7 linked regions of the Homo sapiens genome follow. The protein of the gene in region 1 interacts with the protein of each later gene in a biochemical or structural test. Each region holds a gene or a part of one and is shown on either strand. Other genes may lie near its edges. The genes, in order: AURKA, AATF, OTUB1, ARPC2, INCENP, PPP1CC and IFI16.

Region 1 (3,914 bases):
GTCAGTCACGTGATAATAACTATAGCTTGGGAGGGTGGCACATGAACTATTTGGGAAGGTCAAAGTCAGTTCAGCTCAAGACTATGAGAACCAGAAGCCCCTTTGTCCCAAGGGGGCTGGCAGCTGCAGTTTTACTGAGTCATGTTTTTAAGTTTCTCTATATTGGCCACTTTGTTATGACATATCCTGACATACCTGCTGTCCAGTTTCTTGCACTGAGCATTGGCCATGCAAGCAGATTTCTCTACTAGCTCTAAGTTCAACACTTCTACTTTTCCTTCATCACAGTCACTTTCACCGTATCTTTAGTCGATGGACAGATGACAAAGATATGACAAATATATAAACAATATATATAATGAAGTATTAGGAGTACACCCAACAGGAGAGACCAGAAGAGGCAGGACTAGATGAGGGCGAGACCTGCTCCTCTCAGCCCCTGCTCATTTCCAGGCCAACAATGAACAGATGGTGGAAAGAATTACACAGCACTCCACACAGACATAGATACTTATTTATTTGCATATTTAAAGTTTACACACATGCTATGACTCCAATGTTTTAAAAAAATAAGCCCTTAACAGCTCTGAGACACATGGCCTCTTCTGTATCCCAAGCAAATCCCTAAATGGAGGTAGAGCACGTGTTCCTATTTTTCACACTCTCATATGGGAGATAAGTGGTTAAGGAGGACTAGAAACCCAATCAGGCCTACCGGGGTGCCGGACAGACACACAGCATTCCTAAAGGAATGCCACCAGAGAAAAAATACAAGTCTGTACATATATCTTTATTTTCATACTTAAAAAGAATCACATACTCATTCCAACAGCTTTACCAGGCTTCGCCAACCCAATAAGTTACACACTCACTCAGGTACTAGGAAGGTTATTGCACAGCTCCTTAACTGATCGGGGTCAGGGCAGAGTGGTCACTTTCCCCACAGCCAGGCTCTGGATTTGCCTCCTGTGAAGACACCATGCCTAGCACAGGCTGACGGGGCGGCTGCAGTCGAACCTTGCCTCCAGATTATGAACCAGTATAAGTAGCACAATTCTCGTGGCTACTTTCACTTCAGAGTGTCATGTTTATTGATGTGGAGCTTTCTGAATAGGGAGGTTAAGGCACACCTGCTGAGTAAAACAAATATTTCTTGTGTAGCGTTCTAGATTGAGGGCAGCAGTCAATGGTAAAATAAACTTCAGTAGCATGTTCCTGTCAGGTTATATGGCAGCCCTGGCTCAAGGATTTCTCCCCCTGCACGATTCCTAAGACTGTTTGCTAGCTGATTCTTTGTTTTGGCAATTTGATGGTTTTGATGAATTTGCTGTGATCCAGGGGTGTTCAAGTACTTCTCTGAGCATTGGCCTCTGGCTGGGATTATGCTTCAACAGTCTTGAAATGAGGTCCCTGGCTCCCTCTGTTACAAAGTCAGGGAATGTGAATTCAACCTGGAGTACAACAAATGATAAAATATCACAAAACACAGGTTAGAGAGATCAAATAGTATAGATGTTCGGATCTTGGCCTGCAGTTCAGGCTGATAAGGAAAGAATTCCAGCAGATGTGCTGGGTCCTTTTCAGTTGCGTCTTACCCGTGATATTCTTTTGTAGGTCTCTTGGTATGTGTTTGCCTCAAAAGGAGGCTTCCCAACTAAAAATTCATAGCAAAGAACTCCAAGGCTCCAGAGATCCACCTTCTCATCATGCATCCGACCTTCAATCATTTCAGGGGGCAGGTAGTCCAGGGTGCCACAGAGAGTGGTCCTCCTGAAAACGGAGGGAGGCTCAGGTTGATGTGCTTCTCGTTTTATGATCACAACAGCTGCTAACAATCATTAAAGAGTCCACTAACACTGAGGTCTTCCCCTGGGCCAGATCCTGTGCCCTAGGAAGTAGCTACTATTATAAATTCCCATAGGAAACAGATGAAGCGAGGTGTGTAAGGTCACACAGCTAGCCATCAGGCTTAACCCCAAATCTGTCCAACTCCAGAACCTCCCTGAATAATCTAGAATGTAAGAAACTGAATGTATCACTACCATATAAAAGCTGCCATGCAAAGTTCTCTGTAAATACGATTTGGATTCTACATCTGCATGTGGATATTACAGATATGCTAAGAATCTTAAAAGCCTGGTCGCAATGACAATACACTAGAAACTGTCCCACTGTAACAGCACTGGGGTGGAGATGTAGACACATGCTGCCTTGTGATAGATACTTGGTACGAGTGATGCTGAAATTTTGAGGGTGGCCTATGAAGTACTCTTGCCAAAAATATTTAACCTGGCTGGGTGCAGTGGCTCATGCCTGTAATGCCAGCACTTTGGGAGGCCGAGGGAGGCGGATCACGAGGTCAGGAGATCGAGACCATCCTGGCTAACATGGTGAAACGCCGTATCTACTAAAAATACAAAAAATTAGCCGGGTGTGGTGGTGTGCGCCTGTAGTCCTAGCTACTCAGGAGGCTGAGGCAGAAGAATGGCGTGAACCCGGGAGGCGAGCTTGTAGTGAGCCAAGATCGCACCACTGCACTCCAGCCTGGGTGACAGAGCGAGACTCTGTCTCAAAAAAAAAAAAAAATTTTCTTAACCTGAATCTCTTCAGGACCTGAGACCTACATTCCAGTTTTCAGCAAATACGGGGAATAAAGGTCCAAGTTAAGTGGCAACACAATCAGAAAAGTCCTCTTTAAAGTGGGAGACTGGTCTGGCTTTAGACCACAGAGACAATCCAACCACAGAGACAGTCCAACCACAGAGACAGTCCAACCACAGAGACAATCCAACCACATAGACAGTCCAATACAAAGCATGGGCTTTGGTTGAGTTCTGATTTTACAAACCAGCTATAAGATGTCATGGACAATAGGAGAAATCTGAATGTGGACTAAATATTAGATACTGACAATGCTGTTAATTTTCTTAGGAGTGATCATGGTTCTAGTTATATAGGAGAATATCCTTATTTAGGAAATGCATTCTATTATAGTGCTTAAGGTTGAAGCATCATGATGTTTGCAACGTATTTTCAAGTGTTCACTAAAAAAGCAGATGCAGCCCTTCTGACTAAATGGGAAAAACTGCTGAACGTAGGCACTGTATAGACAGGTATGCCATCAACTACCAATTCCGCATTTTTATCGGTTTAGGTTTTTTTAACGAAGGTTGGAAAAAAGCTGGGAACAGCAGACAGCAAGCCAGAACAGTCTGTGTGGGTTCGTGTTGCTTTGTTATCAGCTGCTCTTCACCATGGAGGCTTACGTGGTCACAGCCCTGGTGCTGTGTTCAGCCAGGCCTGGCACCCACTGAGCACACAAACAGTCACTCACCACTGAATTGTGACGTAGGATTAAGAAGCTACCACTCTGGTCATCTAACCCCTCCATCAGCACCGACGGACTGAATCGGGGGTTCTCAAACTGAGGCAATAACCAGGAAATGATGATGATTAACATCTGGGATTTGGAGTGAAGTGACTATCGGTTATGTAAGTAATCTTTTCAAAAAGCAAGAAGCCATCTTTTCTATCACAATTCAACCGGTTAAGATACAGTTTAACTCTGCGATTCCATGAAGCCTGTAAGTCTTTATTCTGGTTTGTCTCACCAGATAACAGCTCCCACTAATGACAACCAGTTTAAAAAAAAAAAAAAAAAAAAAGACTGCAATAGCAGATTCAGTGCATTGCTGGAACAATTAGAAGTGCTCTGTAACAAAAGCAAAGGTTTTCTCCCTCATATTCTATTTTAGGCTATACTTTTTTTTTAACTAGCTTGATTTTTAAGTCATTTGGCTATAATTTGAGTCCTCCTCCAAAGTTGACAAAACTTCATCGGTAGATATATGTTTTAAAATGCCCCACTTCATGTGAAGTTTCAAAGCTTATTTAAACTCAAATTTAAAACAGTA
Region 2 (4,251 bases), on another chromosome or scaffold:
AGGGTGAGTGTGCTGTGTTTGGGATCTGTATATATCTATATCTAGATATTCAGAGTCCTCATGAAAGAGATATCTATATCCATAGATATAGATATATATGTATAGATTATGTATCTATCTCTCTATATATATATTTGGGAGGCCTTGGCCTCCCAAAGTGTTGGGATTACAGGCATGAGCCTCTGCGCTCAGCTGAGATCAATATGTCTTACTTGCATGCTGAGACTTCATGTTTTCATTTGCTCTTTAAAACTTATTTTTTTAGTATCATGGAGTTAGAGTTGGAAGGGACCTGAGGAGGATATCTAATTTGGCATCTGCCTGTAGGTAGAACCGCCTTAAGACATTCAAGATCAATGTGTAGGATTTCCCAGGTAGGGAGTTCAGTGAACGTTTCTTGTAGGTGAATACCTGATGTAATTAGGAATGGCTTCCTAGAGTCCAGTTTTTGGGTTTTGTGTCCCGCCACACTTAAAGTCTGCTTCTTCCCCTGTGGGAAGTCTGGGCAGTCCTTCCCAGGAGCCTTACGTGGCCTGTGTGGGTGAGGTGGGCCATTTATATCCCCGCCCCTGTCTTTGCCTCCTTTCTCTCTCAAATAGATGACAGATTGATGGTTTTCAAGTTTTTTGAGATTTTTGGAGCACTTCTCTGCTATTTTTAGTGTCCTAGTACCCTAATTCCTGGTATGCCTTTGGAATGAGACCTAGACTGCTCTAGATTAAATGTTTTAAATGTTTCACGATAAGGCCTGTTTTCATTTTGTTACTCATTATTCTTTTTGCTTGAGCCTTTTTCATTTTAAAAAATTCATATTTAAATATAGATATTTTAGGGGTTAGTCAGTGTCCAGTATAATGGACACATATTCTTGGATACGATTTAATTTCTTTTTGTTATGAGACAGGGTCTTGCTCTGTTGCCCAGGCTGGAGTGCAGTAGCGTGATCATAGCTCGTTGCAGCTTCGAACTCTTGGGTTCAAGTGATCTTCCCGCCTCAGCCTCCTGAGTAGCTGGTACTACAGGCATGAGCCACCATGCCCGACTAATTTTTTCTTTTTTTGTGGAAATAGGGTCTCACTATGTTGACCAGGCTGGTCTCAAAACTCCTGGTTTCAAATGATCCTTCCGTGTCAGCCTCCCCAAAATGCTGGGATTACAGGTGTGAGCCACCATACTCAACTCATTTAGTGTCTTTAATCACTGCAGTGTTATTTAACTTTTATTTTGTTCTGATCTTTTTACTCTTTTTTGTACTTAACCAATTGCCTTTACCTCATTGATGAACCTCAATTAATCTGACAGCATCTATTAATCTGACAGGGTGGGTTGTGGTGGAGGAGGGAGAAGAAAGGAAGTTTGGTATCACATATTCTAAGGTGGGAGGGTAGGGAGTTTTCAAGTAATGAGCTGTGCATTTGAAGAGTAGCTAATTTTTCTTGTGGCAATATGACATAATATGTTGTATACTCCCCTGTCTTGATAAACAGACTTTAAGAAAAAAATTCTTGGCCGGGTGCAGTGGCTCACGCCTGTAATGCCAGCACTTTGGGAGGCCGAGGTGGGCTGATCACCTGAGGTCAGAAGTTTGAGCCCAGCCTGGCCAATGTGGTGAAACCCCGTCTCTACTGAAAATACAAAAATTAGCCAAGTGTGGTGGCAGGTGCCTGTAATCTCAGCTACTCGGGAGGCTGAGGCAGGAGAATTGCTTGAACCTGTGAGGCGGAGGCTGCAGCGAGCCAAGATTGTGCCATTGCACTCCAGCCTGGGCAACAAGAGTGAAACTCCGTCTCAAAAAAAAAAAAAAAGTTCTTGGCCGGGCACGGTGGCTCCCGCTTATAATCCCAGCACTTTGGGAGGCTGAGGCAGGCGGATCACTTTAGGTCAAGAGTTTGAGACCAGCCTAGCCAACGTGGTGAAATCCCATCTTTAATAAAAATAAAAATATTAGCCAGGTATGGTGGTACACACTTGTAGTCCCAGCTACTTGGGAGGTTGAGGCAGGAGAATCACTTGAACCCGGGAGCAAAGGTTGTAGTGAGCTGAGATCGTGCTAGTGCACTCTAGCCTGAGCGACAAGAGCGAAACTGTCCCCCCCGAAAAAAAAAAGAGAGAGAGAGAGAAAATTCTTGAGCACATTACTCTGGATGACCAATTTATTACTGTGCTGTATAGCTGGTGTGGAACATAGGCTGAATTTGTACCAACCCCAGAACAACCACTGGAACTTACTGTCTTTAATTAAATCTCTTTTCAATTTGCTTGGTCTTACAGAGTAGTTAAAGTCAGACCGGCTTGGTTTAGATTTCATCTCAGCAATGGATTAGCCATGTGACCTTGGGCAAGTTACTTAACTTCACAGTAAAATGGGGATAATATGGTTGTGAGGATTAAAGGACATAATCAATAGAAAGCATTAGCACAGTGTCTGGCACACATCTCACCATGAATGTTAGGTACTAATATTATCTTTTTCTGCTCAAAGAGGCATTTGGCAGTGTTCGACCATGTGAGCAATCACTCAATAGTTATCAGTGTAACTGAGCCTCACTAGTCTTCAGTGTTTTTTACTTTTTTATTAGTATTTGGATTCTTTATATAATTTAAATTAACTAATTGTTCTGGAAAGTGTTATAGTTTACTAATACTTACAATGCAGTGTTGGCCTCTTACGACGCTATGGAAAGATGGCTACAGATTTCCTTATTGCTATACCCAGCTACTACCTCCTTGAAGCGTTTAACTTTTCCTTGAAATACTTTTCTTTGGCTTGGTGACACTACCTGTGCTGTTTGGGTTCTCCTACCTTTCTGATCTCTTCTCTGGTTCCTTTTGTATCCTCTCAATGTAAATTTCATTCCGTTTAGAATCCTGTCCTCAGGTTGCGTTTTCTCAATATAGTCTCTCCTTGGCACTGTCACTTACTCTGATAACCCTAACTATTGCCTCTAAAATAACAGACTTCCAGCTGTATTCTAGCTCCAGTAAACTCCTGAGTACCATGCCTTTGTAGCTTCAGCACCCTAAACTCTACTTTTCAGAAACTAAATGAATATCTCCTTCCTCTCCACACACCACCCCAAACACGTAAACTTAGTCCCCAGTCACCTTGGTGTTACATGTTGGTAATTTAAACTTGAACTGTGGAAGTGATTTCAAAGACATCGTCTGATATTTTAGTGGCTGCATAAGTGGTAAGTCATGGAGTAATCTTAACAAAATTAAGGGATTTTCTGTGCACAAAACCATTTCTCTAAAAGGGTTTGCTTTTTCTCTCTTTCTTTTTTTTCTTTTTTTTTTGAGATGGAGTCTCTCTCTGTCACCCAGGCTGGAGTGCAGTGGTGCGATCTCAACTCACTGCAACTTCTGCCTCCCAGGTTCAAGCGATTCTCCTGTCTCTGCCTCCTGGGTAGCTGGGACTACAGGCGCATGCCACCACACCCGGCTAATTTTTGTAATTTTTTTTAGTAGAGATGGGGTTTCACCATGTTGGCCAGGCTGGTCCTAAACTCCTGATCTTGTGATCCACCCACCTTGGCCTCTCAAAGTGCTGGGCTTACAGGTATGAGCCACTGTGCCTGGCCTTCTCTCTTTTAGAATTTCTACTGTATTAGGAAATACATCTTTTATGTTGGTGGCAATGATATGTAAGGAAGAAGGGAAGTTACTTAAGGAAATCTCACCATGAGTTATTTAAAACTTTTCATTATGGGATATATCAAACTTATATAAAAGTAGAGAAATAGCACAGTGAACCCCCACATGCCTTCACCAGCTTAAGCAATAATCAATTCATGGTCAATCTTATTTCATCTGTAGTTGTACCAACTCTGCTCACCTTCTGGATTATTTTGAAGCAAATAATACACATTCTCTCATCAGTAAAATTTTCAGCATGTATGTTCAAAAGATAAGGATTTTAAAAAATTATACCATAATCTCATGTAAAAACATTAACAGTAATTTCTTAATAAACATAACTGGCCTGGTGTGGTGGCTCATGCCTGTAATCCTAGCACTTTGGGAGGCCAAGACAGGTGGATCACCTGAGGTCAGGAGTTCGAGGCCAACCTGACCAACATTATGAAACCCCGTCTCTACTGAAAATACAAAAAATTAGCTGGGTGTGGTGGCGGGCACCTGTAATTCCAGCTATTCAGGAGGCCAAACAGGAAAATCTCTTAAACTCGGGAGGTGGAGGTCGCAGTGAGGCGAGATTGCGCCACTGCACTCCAGCCTGGGCAACGAGCAAAA
Region 3 (4,251 bases), on another chromosome or scaffold:
CTCAAGCAATTTTTTTTTTTTTTTTTTGAGACAGTCTCGCTCTGTCGTCCAGGCTGGAGTGCAGTAGCGCGATCTCGGTTCACTGCAACCTCCGCCTTCCGGGTTCAAGCAATTCTCCTGTCTCAGCCTCCTGAGTAGCTGGGACTACAGGCGCGCGCCACTATGCCCGGCTAATTTTTTTGTATTTTTAGTAGAGATGGGGTTTCACCATGTTGGCCAGGCTGGTTTTGAACTCCTGCCCTCAAGTGATCCACCCACCTTGGCCTCCCAAAGTGCTAGGATTACAGGCATGAGCCATTGCCCCTAGCCAAAGTCTCAAGGATTTAAATAGCCCCAAGTGTGAATCTCAACTCTCAACTCCAATTACGATCCTCCTATCTACCAGCCTCACCACACCTCCTCTGAACTGTCCAACAGGCATTTCCACTGAGTGCAGCTGAGATCAACCTCCGAACAACTGCTCCTCCCCGAGGCTGCCCCACCTCAGTCACCCACAGCACCCAAAGCCTTCCAGTCGCTGCCGACTCCATCACCATATCCATCCCTTCAATATGTCTGGTATCCAACTGCTTCTTACTCCTCACCTCTACCACCCGCTGCCCGCCTCCAGCAGATTTTACTGCACAAGTCTCCTGGCAGTGTCCCTGCCTCCCCTTCACCCTCTGGAGTTTATTCTCACCCCAGCAAGAGAATGGCCAGGGTCGGCTTGGCGTGATGGCCCAGGCCTGTAATCCCAGCACTTTGGGAGGCCAAAGTGGGTGGATCATTTGAGGTCAGGAGTTCAAGACCAGCCTAGCCAATATGGTGAAACCCCGCCTCTACTAAAAATACAAAAATTAGCCAGGCATGGTGGTGGGCATCTGTAATCCCAGCACTTTGGGAGGCCAAAGTGGGTGGATCATTTGAGGTCAGGAGTTCAAGACCAGCCTAGCCAATATGGTGAAACCCCACCTCTACTAAAAATACAAAAATTAGCCAGGCATGGTGGCGAGCATCTGTAATCCCAGCTACTCAGGAGGCTGAGGCAGGAGAATTGCTTGAACCCGGGAGGTGGAGGTTGCAGTGAGCTGAGATGGTGCCATTGCACTCCAGTGCACTCCAGCCTGGGTGACAGGGCAACACTCTCTCTCAAAAAAAAAGAAAAGTGACCAGAGTCACCTGCCAGATGCACCCTATCTCCATCTCCCTCAGAGTCCTTTCTCTCGCCACAACACCCCACCCCGCCCCGCCCCGCTCAGTTCCCCAGCCCCAACCCCTCATTCTCCACCAGCCACACTGGCCTCCATGCTGGCCTCAAACCATCCAGGTGCCCTCTCGCCTCGGGCCTGGGTGGGCACTGCTCTCGGACGCCTGTGACTCGCTCCCCGGTCTTTTTCTGTTCATTACTCAAATACCACCTCATCAGCAAGGCCTTCACCAAGCCCTGTTTAAAATGGCAAATGCTCCCACTCCCAATCCCCTCTTTTTTTTTTTTGAGGTGGAGTTTTGCTCTGGTCACTCAGGCTGGAGTGCAGTGGCACAATCTCGGCTCACCGCAACCTCCACTTCCCAGGTTCAAGAGATTCTGCTGCCTCAGCCTAAGTAGCTGGGATTACAGGGATGCGCCACCACACCCGGCTAATTTTGTATTTTTAGTAGAGACGAGGTTTCACCATGTTAGTCATGCTGGTCTCGAACTCCTGACCTCAGGTGATCCACCTGCCTCAGCCTCCCAGTGTGCTGGGATTACAGGCGTGAGCCACCACGCCCGGCCCCGATCCCCTTTTCATTTTTCTCCACAGCACTCACCGCCTTCTGATACCCCACATGTCCCAGAGCCCTCTTTGGCTTATCATGTCTTTCCACCCTGAACTGTAAGTTTTGTGAGGGCAGGACTTTGTCTGCATGGCTCTATCTTCAGTACCTAGAACAGCGCCTGGACCACAGTCCGTTCTCAATAAACGTTAAATGAGTAGCACACCAGGACCACAAAGAACCCAAATCACCACTGCTACTGTAGCAGCCACCATGGCCATTGTGAGCACACTCTCTGTGCCAGGGATTTGGCACAGGGCGAATAAACGTCATCCTAATTGATCCTCACAAGAGCCCATTTAGAGAGAGAGGAGCTCTCTCTGCTTGGGCTCTGCTGCCACAGCTGTCTCTGCCCAGGGAGAAAAGGTGGGCTCAGGCACAGCATACAGAATGCGGGTGCTGGGGGCACAGAGAGGCCTTTTAGACAGCATGCTCTGGACATCCAAATGTTTGATGACTCCGTGGGAAGAACCTGGGGCCCAGCCTGTCCTGTCCACTTTACCAGGGTGGTCTAGCATGAGCGGCAGGCCTTGGCATGGGGGGTCCCACTGGAGGACACTGACATAAGAGGAATGAATGAATGAAGCTCACCCCCTGTATGGGGAGAGGAGCAGCTTTGTAACCCGCTGCTTACAACCGCCCGTAACATCTCCTTCAACCCTCACAATTGCCCTGTGAGGCAGACAATGTCCCCGCCCAGAGAGAACAGGGGATCCAAGAGCTTCAGGGTGTTGCCCGAGATCACACAGCTCAAAGTGGTGAGGCCAGGACTGGAACCCAGGCCCATCAGGCTCCACAGCCAGTGCCTTCATCTCTCCACAGGCACCCTGAGGAAATCTAGCTCCCTGAGGAGGGGGCCTCAGTAGATCACAGTGCACAGATCTCACACAGCTGGATCTGGCCTGCAGGTGTGTTTGGCCCACACATTTAAAATTTGAATTAGCTGCCAACTGTTAGAAGTCAGGAGCTGTGGTTACCTCTGGCTTCTCTTGGAAAAACAGATCTGGAGACAATGGTATGGACACTCCCATTTCCCCCAGGGGCCTCTGCTCCCTATTAGTGTCTGGCTGATACTGAGCTGTGCTGCCCTCCTTGTTCACCATCTGACTTCCTGGCCACCTTCAATCACCTGGGTTACCTACCTGGCCACAGAGGCCTCCCCTACCAGTAGAGGACTCTAAGCATCTGTCATCTTCCAGGGGAAGAGAAACATTTACTAAACACCTACACTGAGCCTACCAGATACTGTTTCCACACACCCATTGTCACATTTATTTATTTATTTATTTATTTATTTTTTTATTTTTTTAAGAGACAGGTCTCACTGTCACCCAGGCTGGAGTGCAGTGGTACAATCATGGCTCAACTTCTTGGGCTCAAGTGATCCTCCAACCGCAGCCTCTTGAGTAGCTGGGACTATAGACATGTGCTACCACACCCAGTAATTTTTTGATTTGGAGAGACAAGGTCTCACTATGTTGCCTGGGTTGGTCTTGAACTCCTGGGCTCAAGCGATCCTCTGGCCTCAGCCTCCCAAAGTGCTAGGATTCCAGGCTTGAGCCACCATGCCTGGCCCCATTTCACATGTCATCCTCCCAGCTCACAGACCTAGAAAGTGGGTGGTGAAGTTTGCCTCCGTTTGAGTGATGCAGCAGGGCCCTTTGAGGAAATCTGTGGCCCCTTGACCCCACTGCTGCCTGCCTCTCCACAAAGATCCAGGAGGCAAGCTGTGGGAAACAGCCCTCTGGCAACCCTCCTACCCCACTGAGCACCAGCCTGGTCAGCCCCCGTATGGGCACCGAGATCATCAGCTCCTGCCCAGCCTGCACCTCCCTCAATCTCACAATCGCCCTATGGGAAGATGCTTTTTTTTTTTTTTTGAGACGGAGTCTCACTCTGTCGCCCAGGCTGGAGTGCAGTAGCGCGATCTCGGCTCACTGCAACCTCCGCCTCCCGGGTTCACACCATTCTCCTGCCTCAGCCTCTCCGAGTAGCTGGGACTACAGGTGCCCACCACCACGCCTGGCTAATTTTTTTGTATTTTTAGTAGAGACGGGGTTTCACCGTGGTCTCGATCTCCTGACCTCGTGATCCGCCCGCCTCAGCCTGCCAAAGTGCTGGGATTACAAGTGTAAGCCACCGCGCCAGGCCTTTTTTTTTTTTTTTTTTGAGACGGAGTCTTACTCCGTCGCTCAGGCTAGAGTACAGTGCGGGATCTTGCCTCACTGCAACCTCCGCCTCCCAGATGCAAGCAATTCTCCTGCCTCAGCCTTCCCAATAGCTGGAACTACACGCGCGCACCACCACTCCCAGCTAATTTTTGTATTTTTAGTACAGATGGGGTTTCGCCATGTTGACCAGGCTGGTCTCGAACTCCTGACCTCAGGTGATCTGCCCGCCTCAACCTCCCAAAGTGCTGGGATTACAGGCGTGAGCCACCGTGCCCGGCCAGAAGAT
Region 4 (3,898 bases), on another chromosome or scaffold:
AAAAGACCTGTGTGCTCATCACAAAGTCCTTTGCACTACAGCAGGCCTGCATGCCCCTCTTGCCCTGGTTTTCTGGAATCGTTTTTACCTGCTGCACCTCCTCTACTCACTATCTGCAAAACCCCGTCAGTTGTCTGAAGTTTTCGTTGAAATGAAAAGGAATGCCTCCTAAGGAAGTGTGGAATTTCTGTGTCAATGTGCCCTGGCCTGAAAGTAAATGAACACCACAACAGAAGACAACTATACTTCAAAGAATCTAAGGTGCTTATGACTGTAAGTCTGCCATAATTTTATGTACCACAAGAGAAACATGCTGCCAATTAAAGTGTGACATGCTATGAATTGTAAGATGCATCCCAGCTTCAAAGACAAAAACTTGAAAAAAATGGTATAGCTGGCTGGGCGCAGTGGCACACGCCTGTAATCCCAGCACTTTGGGAGGCTGAAGTGAGTGGATTGCTTGAGGCCAGGAGTTGAGATCAGCCTGGCCAACATGGAAACCCTGTTTCTTTTTTTTTTTTTTAATTTTTTTTGAGACGGAGTCTTGTTCTGTCGCCCAGGCTGGAGTGCAGTCGCGTGATCTTGGCCTATTGCAAGCTCCGCCTCCCAGGTTCACGCCATTCTCCTGCCTCAGCCTTCAGGGTAGCTGGGACTACAGGCACCCACCACCACGCCCAGCTAAGTTTTTGTATTTTTTGTAGAGATGGGGTTTCACTGTGTTAGCCAGGATGGTCTCGATCTCCTGACATCGTGATCCACTTGCCTCGGCCTCCCAAAGTGCTGGGATTACAGGCGTGAGCCACCGTGCCCAGCTGGAAACCCTGTTTCTACTGAAAATACAAAAATTAGCCGGGTGTGGTGGCACACGCCTGTGGTCCCAGCTACCTGGGAAGCTGAGGCACGAGAATTGTTTGAGCCTGGGAAGCAGAGGTTGCAGTGAGCCGAGATCACACCACTGCACTCCAGCCTGGGTGACAGAGAGAAAGAAAAAAGAAAAAAGTGTATAGTTTAGATTTAATGAAATTTGGTAAATCAACAGATTCATCACCAATAAACAGGTTCACCTTTACCACTGAGGTGAATTAAATTACATTTCACAAAGGAGACATTCCAGTGGCATTGGGTGCAGTGTGAACAAGCTTATTAATTCCAAACTGTAAGCTATCATAATCAGCCAGTGCATGAGGCTGGAGCAACTGAAGGAAGACCTGAATTTATTCCGCGAAAAAGTGGAGTAAGTGGATCACGGCTGGAGCTTGGGCTTAATAAGCAAAAAACCAAGAATTGCCAAATGACAGAGAACCCCCATCTAGCTGCTTAGGTGGTTCTCTTCTTAACTCCTTTTTTTGGTGAGATAGGGTCTCACTCTGCCACCCAGGCTGGAGTGTAGTGGTGCCATCACAGCTCACTGCAGCCTCTACCTCCTGGGTTCAAGTGATCCTCTCACCTCAGCCTCTCAAGTAGCTATGACTACAGTCATGCACCACCATGCCTAGTTATCTTTTTTTTTGAGACAGTCTCCCAGGCTGGAGCGCAGCAGGATGATCTCGGCTTGCTGCAACCTCCACTTTCTGGGTTTAAGCAATTGCCATGCCTCGCTTGCCCGAGTAGCTGGGACTATAGACTATAGGCACATGTCACCATGTCCAACTAATTTTTGTATTTTTAGTAGAGGTGTGGTTTCACCATGTTGGCCAGGTTGGTCTCGAACTTCTGACCTCAAGTGATCTGCTCGCCTTGGCCTCTTAAAGTGCTGGGATTACAGGTGTGAGCCACTGTGCCTGGCCCCTTGCTTTTTGTAGAGATGAGCCTGCACCATGTTATCCAGGCTGGTCCCAAACTCCTGGACCCAAGTGACCCACCAACCTCGGACTCCCAAAGTGCTGGGATTACAGGTATGAGCCACTGTGCCCCGCCTATCCTTTACTCTTTTCTTTTTTCTTTTTGAGACAAGGTCTCACTCTGTCATCCAGGCTGGAGTGCAATGGTGTGATCTCAGCTCACTGCAACCTCCGCCTCCTGGGTCCAAGGGATTCTTGTGCCTCAGCCTCCCGAGTAGCTGGGATTACAGGCGCACACCACCACGCCCAGCTAATTTCTTTGTTATTTTTTTGGTAGAGACGGAGTGTTTCACCATGTTGGTCAGGCTGGTCTCGAACTCCTGACCTCAGGTGATCTGCCCATGTTGGCCTCCCACAGTGCTAGGATTACAGGCGTGAGACACCGCACCCAGCCTCAACTCTTTTTTTTTTTTTTTGGAGACAAGAGTCTTGTTCTGTTGCCCAGGCTGGAGTCCAGTGGCACGATCTCAGCTCATTACAACCTCCACCTCCCGGGTTCAAGCAATTCTCCTGCCTCAGCCTCTGGAGTACCTGGGACTACAGACGTGCGCCACCATGCCCAGCTAATTTTTTTTTGTATTTTAGTAGAGACAGAGTTTCACCACATTGGCCAGGATGATCTTGATCTCCTGACCTCGTGATCCACCTGCCTTAACCTCCCAAAGTGCTGTGATTACAGCCATGAACCACCGTGCCCAGCCAAAACTGTACTTGTCTCCTTCAAGCTGGAATCGAACCAGCAACCTAAGGACGTCTCCTACTGAGGAAGTAGCTATAGTCCTCTGCTCTACCAGCTGAACTATTGAAGGGACCTTAACTCTTGATATCAGAATTCAGTCTTATTTTTAAGATTTAAGAAAAATGGGGAAAAAAAGGAAAGGATTACTGTACAAAAATAGCATATGGCCTGCTCTGTAATTAATACCCTGTGACATCCCTCCTTTAGTCACTGCAATGGCAACAGGAACAAGTTGGTATGCCTGCGTTTGCCTACCTTAAAATGTTAACCAAGGTTCTGTGCAGATTTAGGTATTCTGCTGTGTGAACTCATTAAAGCGGCACAAAAGCAGCAAGTGCACCCTGCTCACCAAAGGTAATGTAGCCAATGTTGTCACCCACAGCGGCGTCTGTGTCTTTCAGCTCCAGAGGAGGTTCCCTGTGGCTAAAGAGGACCTGTGGGGCTGTGTGGCTGGCTCTGCGTCCTTCTTTGAACTCCTGCCAAGACAAAGCAAAAGCAACCAGAAGAGAAGTGGGTGTAAGATGAGTGGCAACTCAAGCTATAGGGTTTGTTCTATGTGGTGTGACCTTTGTAGCCCTCCAGACCAGCAGGAGGTTAAAAATAAACTACACCAAACCTGAAATATGACAAGTGCTAGCTGCTACCACTACACTTCAGATTCAAACGGGAGAGACTGCAAAGTACTTAATAAGTCAGATCTTCAAAATGTGATGAAAAGTAGTGATAATCCTTTTCCTTTGCACTAACATAGGTGATAAACTACCATACTTTCTCTGGGCTCTGGGACTTTGCATGAGTCTTTTTTCACTGAGGATCCTGTTGCTATTTAGAATTCATCAATAAAATCTTTAGAGCAAACTTAAGCTCTTCTTGCGGACAGAAGACAATGGAATGAAAGAAGCTGAGTTGTCTTGGTGCTCATAAAGGAAGCCCTTCCTTCTATGTTCCAATCTCCAAACCTGAAGCTTCTACAGTCCATACATTCCTATGTAAATAGACAAGTAATACAAGGCTTCTCTCTCTCAGCCAGATCTGCAAGAACAGAAGTAGATTTTCTAGCAATGCCAGTAAAACTGGATAATCCAAATTCATCAAGTGGGCCTTCCAAGATGATAGACAGCAGGAGGATGCTGCCAAGGACTCTCCAAGGTCTCTTGTTTTAGGAGTTCTGAAGGCATGGTTACACAGCCATGTGGCCTGCGTGCCCTTCTACTGCTGCTCAAATACTGCCTCCTAATACCATCTCCAACAAACCCAGGCAGGTACTGCTCTCTTGCTGGAGCTGCCATGTCTTTTCTACAAACCTCTACTATGATAT
Region 5 (3,580 bases), on another chromosome or scaffold:
AGAGCACAAGGCCCGTGTGTGTGAGACATGCAGGCCCCGTAGCTGTTCCCTCTCCCGCTCTACCTCCTGGGAAACACCGGGCAGCACGTTTTTTCCGTGTCCATCTTCGTGGGTGGCTTCAGGTTTATCAGATAAGTGAAGAGTCACAGCCAGGGGGCTGCACTGAGTCAGGGCTGCTTGATGGGGACAAAGCTGTCCTTGGTCCTCTGGGCAGAGTCTGGGAAGGCGAGAAGGCGTAGGGTGTAGCTAATGTGCAGGGTGCTGGGCAGAGCAGGGGGCTTTGAGGGTGGCGGTGTGATAGTCATAGTGTCGGCAGCTTTGGTGGGTACCCGAGCTGCATGCTTTACACCTGTTTCCTTGTTTAGTCCTCAGTTGAAGCCCATGGTGGCATGGGAGCCATCAGCTCCACTTCACACAGGGGGAAACAGGTCCAGAGAGGTTAAATGACATGTTCAAAGTCATGAGCCAGTGTGTTGTGGAGGTGACTCCAGAACTCATCCACAGCCTCTTGTTCATGCTTGGAGCCAGTGTCTGCCCTGAAGGTTAGGATAAAAAGGGGTATTGTGGATTATCCCATTTGATTCTCATGTTGACCCTGGAGGAAATGTGTTATGGTCTCCATTGTATAAAAGTGTTATGAGGCTCAGAGACCCAAGTTACAAGGAAAAGTGGGGGCCAAATGTTGGGCTCCAGCTTGTGTTCCCTGCACCCTCAGGTGTGCACACTTCTAGCCCCGGGGCAAAAGCGCAGCTCTTGGCTCTAAGCTGGTTGCCCATTCAGCAATCCCACTTTCTAAGGTGTGTCCTACTGGCTGGGCCTGGTTTCCCCAGCAGGGATGGGAACAGGGCTTGGGCTGGGCCTCCACTTCCTGTCCTAACAGGCTCTTGCTGGGTCCTCAGGGAGCTGCAGGAGCGGGAGAAGGCCCTGCGGCTGCAGAAGGAGCAGCTGCAGAGGGAACTGGAGGAGAAGAAGAAGAAGGTGAGGGGAGCTGGGTTGCGGGCTCCCCTGGGGTCTGCCCTGAGCTGTGGGCGGGTCTGGACTCCTGCAGCAGGGGCTGCCTAGGGAGGGGAGGGAAAGGGAGGAGAATGGAGCGGAGGGAAGGGGAGGGGAGGGAAGGGCACCTGCACAGCTCCCTAACACCCCATTGCCACCTGGGTTCCAGGAAGAGCAGCAGCGTCTGGCTGAGCGGCAGCTGCAGGAGGAGCAAGAGAAGAAAGCCAAGGAGGCAGCAGGGGCCAGCAAGGCCCTGAATGTGACTGTGGACGTGCAGGTGCCACCTGGGCCCCAGTGGAGAGGCTCTCAGGTGGAGGGGCCCACTCTATTCTCTTCCCAGTAGCTAGAGGCACAGGCTGTGTTAGGCCCCTAAGGAAAAGGACAGATACACTTGGCCCAATTGTTTTTACTTCTTTTTATATTCTTTGTTATTCTAAAAGTAGAATTTGTTGAGGTGGGGGATAAAAAGGAACTAAACTTTATAGAAGAGTATACAGTTTTAAAAAAAGGGACCCTCAGGAAAACTCTACTAAGCGCGTTGTATATCCTTCTAGATTTTTACTTATGTAACCCTTTTAACACACACACAGATATCCTCTCTCTCTCTCTCTCTCTTTCACCCATACACATACATATTTAAAATGGGCACATACCATTTGGTGGCTTGATTTCCAGGCCCCCAACCCCCATGGTTTTTTTTCACTTAGTATATTATAGACATCTGTCTATTTCAACACAGGTCAATTTCTTAGTTTTGATGGCTGTGTACCTTAATTGTGCTGGAATTCAGCCGGCTCCTCTTGATGAGCATTTGATCTATTTTCACTTCACTGCTGTTACCAAACAAAACAATGTTTTCATTGCAGCATTGTTAAGATGTGGAAAACTTGGAAGTTAGTATGGTATCTGTCAATGATGGATGGTTACGTTGCAAATCCTGGAGTCTCCTTAGTGGTTCCCAGGAGGATTCTAGACACACTGACCTGGAAGAAAGTTTGCAATACACCTTAGCATCAAAAAAGGAGATACAGAGTCGTGTGTGTTCTGTGACTTTTTAAAATTAAAAAGTAGGCCTGGTGCAGTGGTTCTCGCCTGTAATCCCAGCATATTGGGAGGCCAAGGGGACAGATTACTTGAGGTCAGGAGTTCGAGACCAGCCTGGTCAACATAGTGAAACCCAGTCTCTACTAAACATACAAAAAATTGGCCGGGTGTGGTGGTGCACACCTGTAATCCAGCTACTTGGGAAAGCTGAGGCATGAGAATCTCTTGAACCTGGGAGGCGGAGGTTGCAGTGAGCCGAGATCACACCACTGCACTCCAGCCTGGGCGACAGTGAGATTCTGTCTCAAAAAAAAAGAAAAAGTGATCCTGCACCTTTTGTTTCTCCTGTGAAATAGGAGGAGGTGAGCAGTGCCCCAGCACTCCTCGGTGGTGAGAGATGGGAATGCCATGGAGGGAACTGACGGCCACGTTTGTTTTTGCAGTCTCCAGCTTGTACCTCATATCAGATGACTCCGCAAGGGCACAGGGCCCCTCCCAAGATCAACCCAGATAACTACGGGATGGATCTGAATAGCGACGACTCCACCGATGATGAGGCCCATCCCCGGAAGCCCATCCCCACCTGGGCCCGAGGTAAGCAAAGCCCACAGCTCCCTGGGAGACTCAGGCCCTCCCTGGTCCTCACCTTGAGGGCCCTGGAAGTAGTGGGTTGGCTGCTGCGGTGTTGGGAGGCTGCCGTGTGCTTCAGTTGGCAGTTCGAGGCTCTAGCCTTGGGTATGCATGTGCCCTGGGGAGTGTGGGGCACCCTGTGGTCATTGTGCTTTCCTGAGGACCAGACCTATGAGGTTGGGTTCCTTTGTTCTCAACAAATATATGAAATTGTGCTGGGCTTGGGCATGGCATATGCTGCTGGGTGTCCTGACTTGGACTAGGCCCTTCCTTAGAGTCCCATCCAGCAGGGCTGAAGAGACTTGGACCTAAGTAAGCCACCTGGGGCAGAGGCAGAGCTAGAATGGGGAAGGGTTTAGGCAGAACACCAAGCTGGAGCCTGGGGCTTCCAGCCAGCTCGGGGAGGCAGGAAAGTCCTTGAGGAGTGCATGAGGCACTTGAGCAGGATCTGACCTGGAGTTTACAGGCCCCAGCATTAAACCAGAATGTGGGTGAGCGTGACTGCAATGTCTCAGGCCTGAGTGCAAGGCCAGCTTGAGTGAGCAGGGTAGGTGCTAGAAGTGGGTGCTGCCAGAGTGGATGGGGCCCGTGGGTACCATGGGTGCCTTGCAGTGGTTGCTGAGCCGGAAGTCAGGGAGGGGTGCAGACGCCCCAGAGGGAAGGGCCTGGAATCCCATAGCTGGTAGGCACACTACAGAAACTTGTTTTTGTGAGTTTCACCTCATCTGAACCCTACAGTAACTGGCATGTGCTTTAAGCCTCTTAACTACTAGTGTCAAGTCATTTGGGAGATGGCAGTGAGCAGGAGCCAGCTCGCTTGCAAAGCCATCTAATCGGAGGTGACTTTGAACAGCTTACTTAAATAGTTTCCTCATCCGTGAAAGGGGGGTGAAGACAAGACCCAGCTGAGGAG
Region 6 (4,107 bases), on another chromosome or scaffold:
CCAAATGTGAAGGACACTCCTCTGTCATTTTCACCCCAGCCTAAGACATCTTTATCGGGGTCAGACCACAAAAGATCACAAAGAAGACCTTGATCTGGTACATCAGTTGGTCGCATAATTCGCCGAATCTGCTCCATAGATTGAAGATCTGGTGATAAACCTATTCAATGAGGAAAAAAAAAAAATGAAGAAAGCAGAACTTTTAAAAGGATACTACCCCTTCAAAAGTTCCATTTGTCTACAGAGAAATTCAATAATCCTGACATAAAAACTGAAATCTATGATTATATTTTATTTACTTTTGGTTAAAAGAAAAAAACACAGAAAAAGGACAACTGGATACACACTAGAATTACATGCAGTAATGCATGGGGTGCAGTAGGTTTAAACAGTACATGGAAACAATTATATTATACAGAACACTGTAAAATAAAATCCAGTGATTTAAAAAACTCTTCTATGGGCTTCCCCCAGTTGATGACAATAATGAGCGATGTTATGATTGATGGCTTATAATGACTGAGCTGAGAAGATAAGGATGCTCAGTGTGAGGTAGTTCTCTAGGAAACCTGCACTGTTCACAGACCATTAAAATCTACAAGAGCTTATTGTATCGAGTTACAATATGGGATGCATATTGTAAGAGTTAAAAACCATGTATCCAACTCTACCAAAACCTAAGTACAGAAGCACAGAGATAAAAGACATTATGCAGGCTTTTTGATGGCTAAAATCTACAAGAGCTTATTGTATCGAGTTACAATATGGGATGCATATTGTAAGAGTTAAAAACCATGTATCCAACTCTACCAAAACCTAAGTACAGAAGCACAGAGATAAAAGACATTATGCAGGCTTTTTGATGGCTGATTAATTTCAGACCATACAGGAAAAGAAATTCTCTTTGCAATTACTATTTTAATTACATTATAGAAAGCACAACCACTGAGCAAAGCAAAACAGCTTATAACATATATATGTATATATTTTCAGAGATAGGGTCTTGCTCTGTTGCCTAGGCTGGAGTGCAGTGGTGCGATCATAGCTCACTGCAGCCTTAAACCCCTGGGTTCAAGCGATCCTCCCGCCTCAGCCTCCCAAATAGCTACGGCTACAGGTGTGCACCATTACACCTGGCTAACTTTTACAACTTTTTCTAATGACAGGGGTCTCGATATGTTATAGGCTGTTCTCATATTCATGGCATCAAGCAATCCTCCTGGCTTGGCCTCTCCAAAGTGCTGGAATTACAGATGCGAGCCACTATGCCTGGCCAAAATAACTTTTAAAATCCAAGTCAGAGAAAGTTCTGAGAGGATAAAAAACAATCAAGGGAAAATCTACTCACATCTTGAGTGTTCTAGAGGATCTCTGGCACAACAAATTACACATTGTTCATTTTATAGTTAAAAACACTCTTCTGCCGGGCGTGGTGGCTCAAGTCTGTAATCCCAGCACTTTGGGAGGCCGAGGCGGGCAGATCACGAGGTCAGGAGATTGAGACCATCCTGGCTAACACGGTGAAGCCCCGTCTCTACTAAAAATACAAAAAATTAGCCAAGCGTGGTGGCGGGTGGCTGCAGTCCCAGCTACTCAGGAGGCTGAGGCAGGAGAATGGCGTGAACCTGGGAGGCAGAGCTTGCAGTGAGCCGAGATGGTGCCACTGCGCTCCAGCCTGGGTGAGAGAGCGAGACTCTGTCTCAAAAAACAAAAACAAAAACAAAAAAAACCAAAAACTTTTCTAAGCCGGGCACAGTGGCTTACACCTGTAACCCAGCACTTTGGAAGTCCGAGGCAGGAGGACTGCTTGAGCCCAGGAATTTGTGACCAGACTGGGCAACGTGGTGAGAACTCATCCTTACAAAAAATAAAATAAAAATAAAAATTTTCTGCTCTATTTTCAAACCTAGCTTACAGAGTCTAGAATTCCCTGTAATAAATCAATTCCTTAAGATTTTTATCCAAATGATCCTGGCTGTATCAGAGTGAAAGTGCAATGCAACACATCAACAAAGGAGAGTGTTCTGTCAGAGAAAGTCATCCCAATGATAACTCACAAATGTTAAAGTGTTCACCCTTTGGAAGGGATCAAAACCTATTTGGAACAAAAATCAGCCCACCTACCTCCATGACAGCAGAATATCTTCTCATCCACGATGGCTGCTATCGGTAAACAGTTAAAACAGTCTGTGAAAGTTTTCCATAGTTTAATGTTGTATCTTCTTTTACCTGTGATTAAAAAGAGAGTATTACATTAAAAAGAGAGTATTACTGTTCCGTAGGCTCATTCTCTCAGGATTAACTTCCCCCAAAGCAAGATTCTGGGTGCCTTTTAAGCAAATGAAACTATGTTTTTATTAAGAATCTTAATAAAACCATCTTATTTTAAGGCTCTTTTAAAATAAGAGCTGGGCGTGGTGGGTCAGACCTGTAATCCCAGCACTTCGGGAGGCTGAGGTAGGAGGATGGCTTGAGCCCAGGAGTTCAAGACCATCTTGGGCAACATAGTGAGACCCCATCTCTTTAAAGAAAGACTCTCCTAGAGGGAAGGGGTTTAGGAGAGACACATATCTGATCTAAAAGCAATGACTTACATTTTCACATGAAATCTTTTTAAATTCCACAGAAGCATGAAACCAGAATTCCAGATTTGATAATGATTAAGGACTGCCATCAAATCCCAGGAATTATCTGGGAGCATCAATTCTGTTTGAAATTGTCTGCTCTGTCCAATCTCACCGCAGCTAGTCCCCTACTTCTGAATTCAATTACGAACTTACACATGTGGCGTTATGACCTTCCTTCTGAGGAAACCTGAGAGTTAGCACCCATCCCCCATATATGCCCCTCAATAACCTACTGACACCAGAGGATCCCCAGCCCTCAGTACTCTAGCAGGAGGCACAATGATCACACGGCAGTGGCTGCCTCTCACAGGCACTACAGGGCATTTGTTTCCAACACTGCACAGACTCCACATGCTCCCACAGGCCTGATGTCACAGGATGGTCATGTTCCCTCAACAGCACAGGCATCCACACATTCTGGAGTCAGAGTGCAGTTCTGACAGAAATATGCCTCTATGCACTGTTTCTACAGGAAACTGATGTTCTGAGTTTAAAACCTAGTCACATACCTTGCAAGAACAAATTTCTCTGGATTGGTTGAGGATTGTCCAATTGTCCAGATGCCTTTGTTTCCTGTACTTACTATACTAAGCACAATCTTTAAAAACCAGGAGTTTGGCCAGGCGCGGTGGCTCACACCTGTAATCCCAGCACTTTGGGAGGCCGAGGCGGGCAGACCATCTGAGGTTGGGAGTTTGAGACCAGCCTGACCAACATGAAGAAATCCCGTCTCTACTAAAAATATAAAAATTAGCTGGGCGTGGTGGCGCATGCCTGTAATCCCAGCTACTTGGGAGGCTAAGGCAGAAGAGTCACTTGAACCTGGGAGGCGGAGGTTGCGGTGAGCCTTGATTGTGCCATTGCACTCCGGCTTGGGCAACAAGAGCGAAACTCCGTCTCAAAAAACAAAACAAAACAAACAAAACAAACCAAGAGTTTGTCCTTAGTCTCTTTTCCTGGGGAATACAGGGACATCTAAAGGTTTAAACCTATACCTCTCCTTTGAGAGTTAGAGCCAGCCCAAGCAACTGACCTGAACCACACCTCCCACCCTGTAATGCAAATCAAGCAGCTTAGGGAGTTTACCACAGGGCTTGAAATGAAATGTAAATTCAACAAATGTTTGCCTTCTCTCTGCAGAGGAGTGTTATCTTTTCTCCTAATAATTTCTGGTTTCTCAATGACTGGGTCTAACACTGACTATGGTTCACCCTGTTGCATATTTCTTTAGAGGTCCTTCACTAGGGGGTTCGGAAAGTTTAACAAACTTCTCCCGCCAGGCTGAGGAAGGAAAATTGCTTGAACCTGGGAGGCAGAGGTTGCAGTAAGCCAAGATCGCACCATTGCACTCCAGCATGGGCAACAAGAGTGAAACTCCGTCTCAAAAAAAAGCAAACTCCTTCTTACGAAAGGCTGAAGGGCAATCTCCAAAAACCACCAACTCCCATTTCCAACAGCAATACTACTACTACTACCACCA
Region 7 (4,251 bases), on another chromosome or scaffold:
ACAAGTGCTCAGTGCCACAAAGAAAAACCAGCACTTAAACAGGAAATTTCTCAGCAAAGCATATTTGCTTCTACAGAAGGGTGCTGCCTGCGTCAGTCACAATGCACATTCTAAGCTGACCGGATTGGCTACTGCTTTAAATTCTATAGGGGTAATTAGGCGGGAAGGAAGACACTGTCCTGTACCAATTAGGCGGGAAGGCATGTCTGGGGCGGCAAAGGAAGGAAGGGTTGTTTACAGAACAGGAAAGAACAGGAAAGTTTGAAGACGAACTTATTGTTTCTAGCACACTCACAAAATAAGTCAAAACTTTCCATTGAAAATTTTTTTTGGTTTTGCAATTGATATGGAACTTTGGACCAACATTATATAAAAATAACTCCATTGTCCTGCTTCAGGCAGTTTTGATATAGAGATTCACTTTCAATTTGATTCTTGAATCTTTGTAGGTGATCTATTCCTCATTACCGAAGGCTTACAGAGTATTTTTGTTCATTATATTCTTCAGTTTCACTATAATGTGTTTTTGTATAGATTTTCCCTTCATTCTCTGGACCTTTTCAGTCCAAGGATCCTCATGTTCTCGTAAGAAGGAAGCTTTTTTTTTTTTTTTTTTTTTTTTTTGACGGAGTCTCACTCTGTCACCCAGGCTGGAGTGTAGTGGCACGATCTCCGCTCACTGCAACCTCCGTCTCCTGGGTTCAAGCAATTCTCCTGCCTCAGCCTCCCGAGTAGCTGGGACTGCAAGCGCTTGCCACCACACCTGGCTAATTTTTGGTATTTTTAGTGGAAACGAGGTCTCACTGTGTTAGCCAGGATGCTTTTGATCTCCGGAACTTGTGATTCGACCACCTCGGCCTCCCAACATGCTGGAATTACAGGCGTGAGCCACTGCGCCTGGCCCAATTAATAGCCCCTGAAATTTAGATATCTTGGTTATACACAAAGACATCATTCCTAAAATTAAAAAATTCATTAATTTAAAAGTTTTGGAATCCATACCTTGCACTGTCATCATGGAAGTGTACAGGTGTTAAGAGGTCAAGAGCAGTGACACTCTGTCCATAGGGAGACTCTGAAATCTACCATGAGACAAAGCCTCAGTTGAGTCTTAAGGTTGTATGGGAAGTAGTCAAAGAAAGAAATGTGGGAATGGCTTTCCAGGCAGTAAGAAGGAACTAGCAAAGTCATGAGGCATGAAGACACAAGGTGTCCGGCATCTTTGTGAAGCATAGATACAAGGAGTACAAAGGTACTAGAAGTAAAAAAGATGCAGCTTATTCAACACTTTCTGAGACAGTATAGGAAGCAAGGAATTTTGGGGAAGAAAAAGGAGAAATATTGAAGGATTTCAGTGGAATATAAATGTGGCTTATCGAGAGAAAACTGATTGTGCGAAAAGAAATAATTAGACAAATCAAGTCTGAAAGAAGAAAAATAAAACAACCAATAAAATCATTTCAGTGAATAAATACTGTGATGCTGCACTAGAAAGCATGCAGATTTTCAGCAAAGTTATGGTTTTATGGGTACAGAGAACAGAAGCCATGGTCTAGCACCAAAGAAGGGAGGATGCTAATGAAAGCCAACTAGGGAAGAGTCAAGGAGAATAGGGTCAGTGCCACAGCATGAAACTGTAGCGCTGTAGCAGAAAGTTATTCATATAAGGTGGGAGGCTGCAGCCCATTTACACCTAGGCCGCTCCAGTCATACTGGGTGTGGGAAGATTTAAGAAACAACAGGCAGGATTTGGGGAATAGGCTTCAGCCCCAGTAAAGGATAAGAAGAGGAACCAAGGGCTTTGACACTGCAGAGCTCATACTCTTAACACTGAGGCAATTGCTTGTTCTCAGACCTCCCTCTAACAACTGGACCCAACTCAACTATTCTCATTCAATGGGAATAATTTCTTAGACATTCCTAACCCAGCAGTTCTTCACTCAATTTCTACAGTAACACATTTGGTCGTTGAGTCCTTCTTTATCACACATATTCATGAACAACTCTTTCATATGGGCCACTCACTCACATAGGCATACATCTTTTAAATTGTCTGTATACATGTGTAACACTGTATATACCATTTTCTCTTGTAGGCTCACTTATGTCTGTAAAGATGGGAAAAAAATACAAGAACATTGTTCTACTAAAAGGATTAGAGGTCATCAATGATTATCATTTTAGAATGGTTAAGTCCTTACTGAGCAACGATTTAAAACTTAATTTAAAAATGAGAGAAGAGTATGACAAAATTCAGATTGCTGACTTGATGGAAGAAAAGTTCCGAGGTGATGCTGGTTTGGGCAAACTAATAAAAATTTTCGAAGATATACCAACGCTTGAAGACCTGGCTGAAACTCTTAAAAAAGAAAAGTTAAAAGGTAATTGGGAAGAGGGAACACCCACTCCCTGCAACCATCCCCAAACCCTCCCCAACATTGATTAGAGCCCCACCTCGGACATACTTGAGATGTGTTTTCCCCAGTTTGTGACTCAACAGCTGAGACAATGTTGGTACTTCAGAGGCCAACAAGTTGACAACTTAGTGCATTCCATTACTGGTGTAGATTGAAGTATTTCAGAATGTATATTTGGGATCAGTGAAAGAACAAAAGTGAGAGGGAGTTGAAGGGGGACTGAGACTTCCAGTACATTAGAAAGATTATATAATAATAAAATCATAAAAACTGTTTAAATTCAAGATATGTACATTTAGCCAATGAATGTATCTGTTCTATTGAGACCATTTAACCCATCACTACCCTTTATAATTTAAAAAAATGCAATACTTACATGTGAGCCTGCCTCTCAGAAGTGTGATCTCCTCTCTTGTTATATCAAGTTAAAAAAAAGGATTTGAAAAAGTCTAAGTCCAAAATCAGTATATCCTTCCTCATGGAAACCTTTGGCTGGTTTCTATAATTTGAATATCTTTACCTGGGGAATGTGACCTAGCAGTCTCCATCATGAAAACATTAGTTTTTAAAACAAAATGATCGGAGAACCGCATTGGGAAAGGGTTAACTGAAGCACATGGAGTTCAGAGAACAGGAAGCATGTGCTCAGTGCACAGGGGAGGAGTGAGGAAAGTGCTGAGGAGCATGAGTCAGTGCTTGTTCCTGTCTTGTGACTGCTGGTCTCCTTAAGGCCAGGCTGGGCTAATGCAGTAGAGCTAGACTAAAGCACAGCTGAACCCTCAAGCAGGAACTGAGAGCAAATTGTATTGAAACTGCTTCAGCTGTCGGAGATCGTTTATATGTCTTCCTTTTTTCTGCATTGGTTGGGAATAAAATTGAATCTATTCCAGTAAAAGGACCAGCCCTATCAAGAAAGAGGAAGAAGGAAGTGGATGCTACTTCACCTGCACCCTCCACAAGCAGCACTGTCAAAACTGAAGGAGCAGAGGCAACTCCTGGAGCTCAGGTAAGCTTCAGGAAGAGGAGCAGGCTTCAAGTCCCACAGAGGAAGCTCTGCTACGGCTCTTCCACTCAATCTCTCCAGCAGGCAGTTATTTCTTCATGTTTCCCATCAAGTTTCAGATTTACCAAATTGTATGATAATTGATCATCTTATTGATGCTCAAAGCAATGCACCAAACACATGAGTAAACATAATGTAAATATATATAACATAAATGTGATACCTTCATTCTAGTAGAGTGGAGTGTCAACGTGAGAATCAGGTAAGTACTTTGTCCATGTGTATAAAAACCTAGTTTCTCTAATCCCAAGTCAGCACATCCCATAACAGAAATAATTAGAGAAATAATGTGTATAACATTCTCCTCTTTCTTCGTTTAATGAAACCATCTATGCCCATCTCTTAAACTGGCGAGAGATGGGCAGCAACCTCTCAAGTTTCCAAGAAACATCTTCTTAGGAATAATAAAACTACTATCCAATAATGAAAATGTGCTCTACTTCATTTGGCACTGAAAACGAATAACAGGAAAATCAAACCACTTTCAGAAAAGAAAAAAATCAACCAAAGAAAAGGCTGGACCCAAAGGGAGTAAGGTGTCCGAGGAACAGACTCAGCCTCCCTCTCCTGCAGGAGCCGGCATGTCCACAGCCATGGGCCGTTCCCCATCTCCCAAGACCTCATTGTCAGCTCCACCCAACAGTTCTTCAACTGAGGTACACTCTTCCTGGTCCCATTTTGCTTTGTTTTTTTCAACCCAAAGTAAAGGACTGATTTCACCGGTTACTTAAAAATTGCATCGATAATTTGCTAGTTAATCCAATGTACATA

The links.
Region 2: the proteins of AURKA (region 1) and AATF form a complex in vitro, tested with the Homo sapiens proteins (one study listed by BioGRID).
Region 3: of the proteins of AURKA (region 1) and OTUB1, one has a biochemical effect on the other in vitro, tested with the Homo sapiens proteins (one study listed by BioGRID).
Region 4: the proteins of AURKA (region 1) and ARPC2 form a complex in vitro, tested with the Homo sapiens proteins (one study listed by BioGRID).
Region 5: the proteins of AURKA (region 1) and INCENP form a complex in vitro, tested with the Homo sapiens proteins (3 studies listed by BioGRID and IntAct, with this or other methods).
Region 6: the proteins of AURKA (region 1) and PPP1CC form a complex in vitro, tested with the Homo sapiens proteins (one study listed by BioGRID).
Region 7: the proteins of AURKA (region 1) and IFI16 form a complex in vitro, tested with the Homo sapiens proteins (one study listed by BioGRID).

The regions. Positions count from the first base shown.
Region 1 is NC_000020.11:56,368,890-56,372,803, forward strand, and holds the end of AURKA (aurora kinase A), read right to left. Parts: intron 1,771-3,914; coding exon 1,596-1,770; intron 1,452-1,595; coding exon 1,269-1,451; 3' UTR 501-1,268; downstream 1-500. UniProt on the Homo sapiens protein: Mitotic serine/threonine kinase that contributes to the regulation of cell cycle progression.
Region 2 is NC_000017.11:36,954,884-36,959,134, forward strand, and holds part of AATF (protein AATF), read left to right. Parts: intron 1-4,251. UniProt on the Homo sapiens protein: Part of the small subunit (SSU) processome, first precursor of the small eukaryotic ribosomal subunit.
Region 3 is NC_000011.10:63,989,438-63,993,688, reverse strand, and holds part of OTUB1 (ubiquitin thioesterase OTUB1), read right to left. Parts: intron 1-4,251. UniProt on the Homo sapiens protein: Hydrolase that can specifically remove 'Lys-48'-linked conjugated ubiquitin from proteins and plays an important regulatory role at the level of protein turnover by preventing degradation.
Region 4 is NC_000002.12:218,244,578-218,248,475, reverse strand, and holds part of ARPC2 (actin-related protein 2/3 complex subunit 2), read right to left. Parts: intron 3,057-3,898; coding exon 2,930-3,056; intron 2,651-2,929; exon of another isoform or gene 2,558-2,650; intron 1-2,557. UniProt on the Homo sapiens protein: Actin-binding component of the Arp2/3 complex, a multiprotein complex that mediates actin polymerization upon stimulation by nucleation-promoting factor (NPF).
Region 5 is NC_000011.10:62,147,577-62,151,156, forward strand, and holds part of INCENP (inner centromere protein), read left to right. Parts: intron 1-899; coding exon 900-978; intron 979-1,162; coding exon 1,163-1,270; coding exon of another isoform or gene 1,271-1,303; intron 1,304-2,480; coding exon 2,481-2,631; intron 2,632-3,580. UniProt on the Homo sapiens protein: Component of the chromosomal passenger complex (CPC), a complex that acts as a key regulator of mitosis.
Region 6 is NC_000012.12:110,722,536-110,726,642, forward strand, and holds part of PPP1CC (serine/threonine-protein phosphatase PP1-gamma catalytic subunit), read right to left. Parts: intron 2,230-4,107; coding exon 2,125-2,229; intron 161-2,124; coding exon 1-160. UniProt on the Homo sapiens protein: Protein phosphatase that associates with over 200 regulatory proteins to form highly specific holoenzymes which dephosphorylate hundreds of biological targets.
Region 7 is NC_000001.11:159,012,565-159,016,815, forward strand, and holds part of IFI16 (gamma-interferon-inducible protein 16), read left to right. Parts: exon of another isoform or gene 1-916; intron 917-1,002; exon of another isoform or gene 1,003-1,486; intron 1,487-2,096; 5' UTR 2,097-2,104; coding exon of another isoform or gene 2,105-2,116; coding exon 2,117-2,381; intron 2,382-3,307; coding exon 3,308-3,423; intron 3,424-3,968; coding exon 3,969-4,136; intron 4,137-4,251.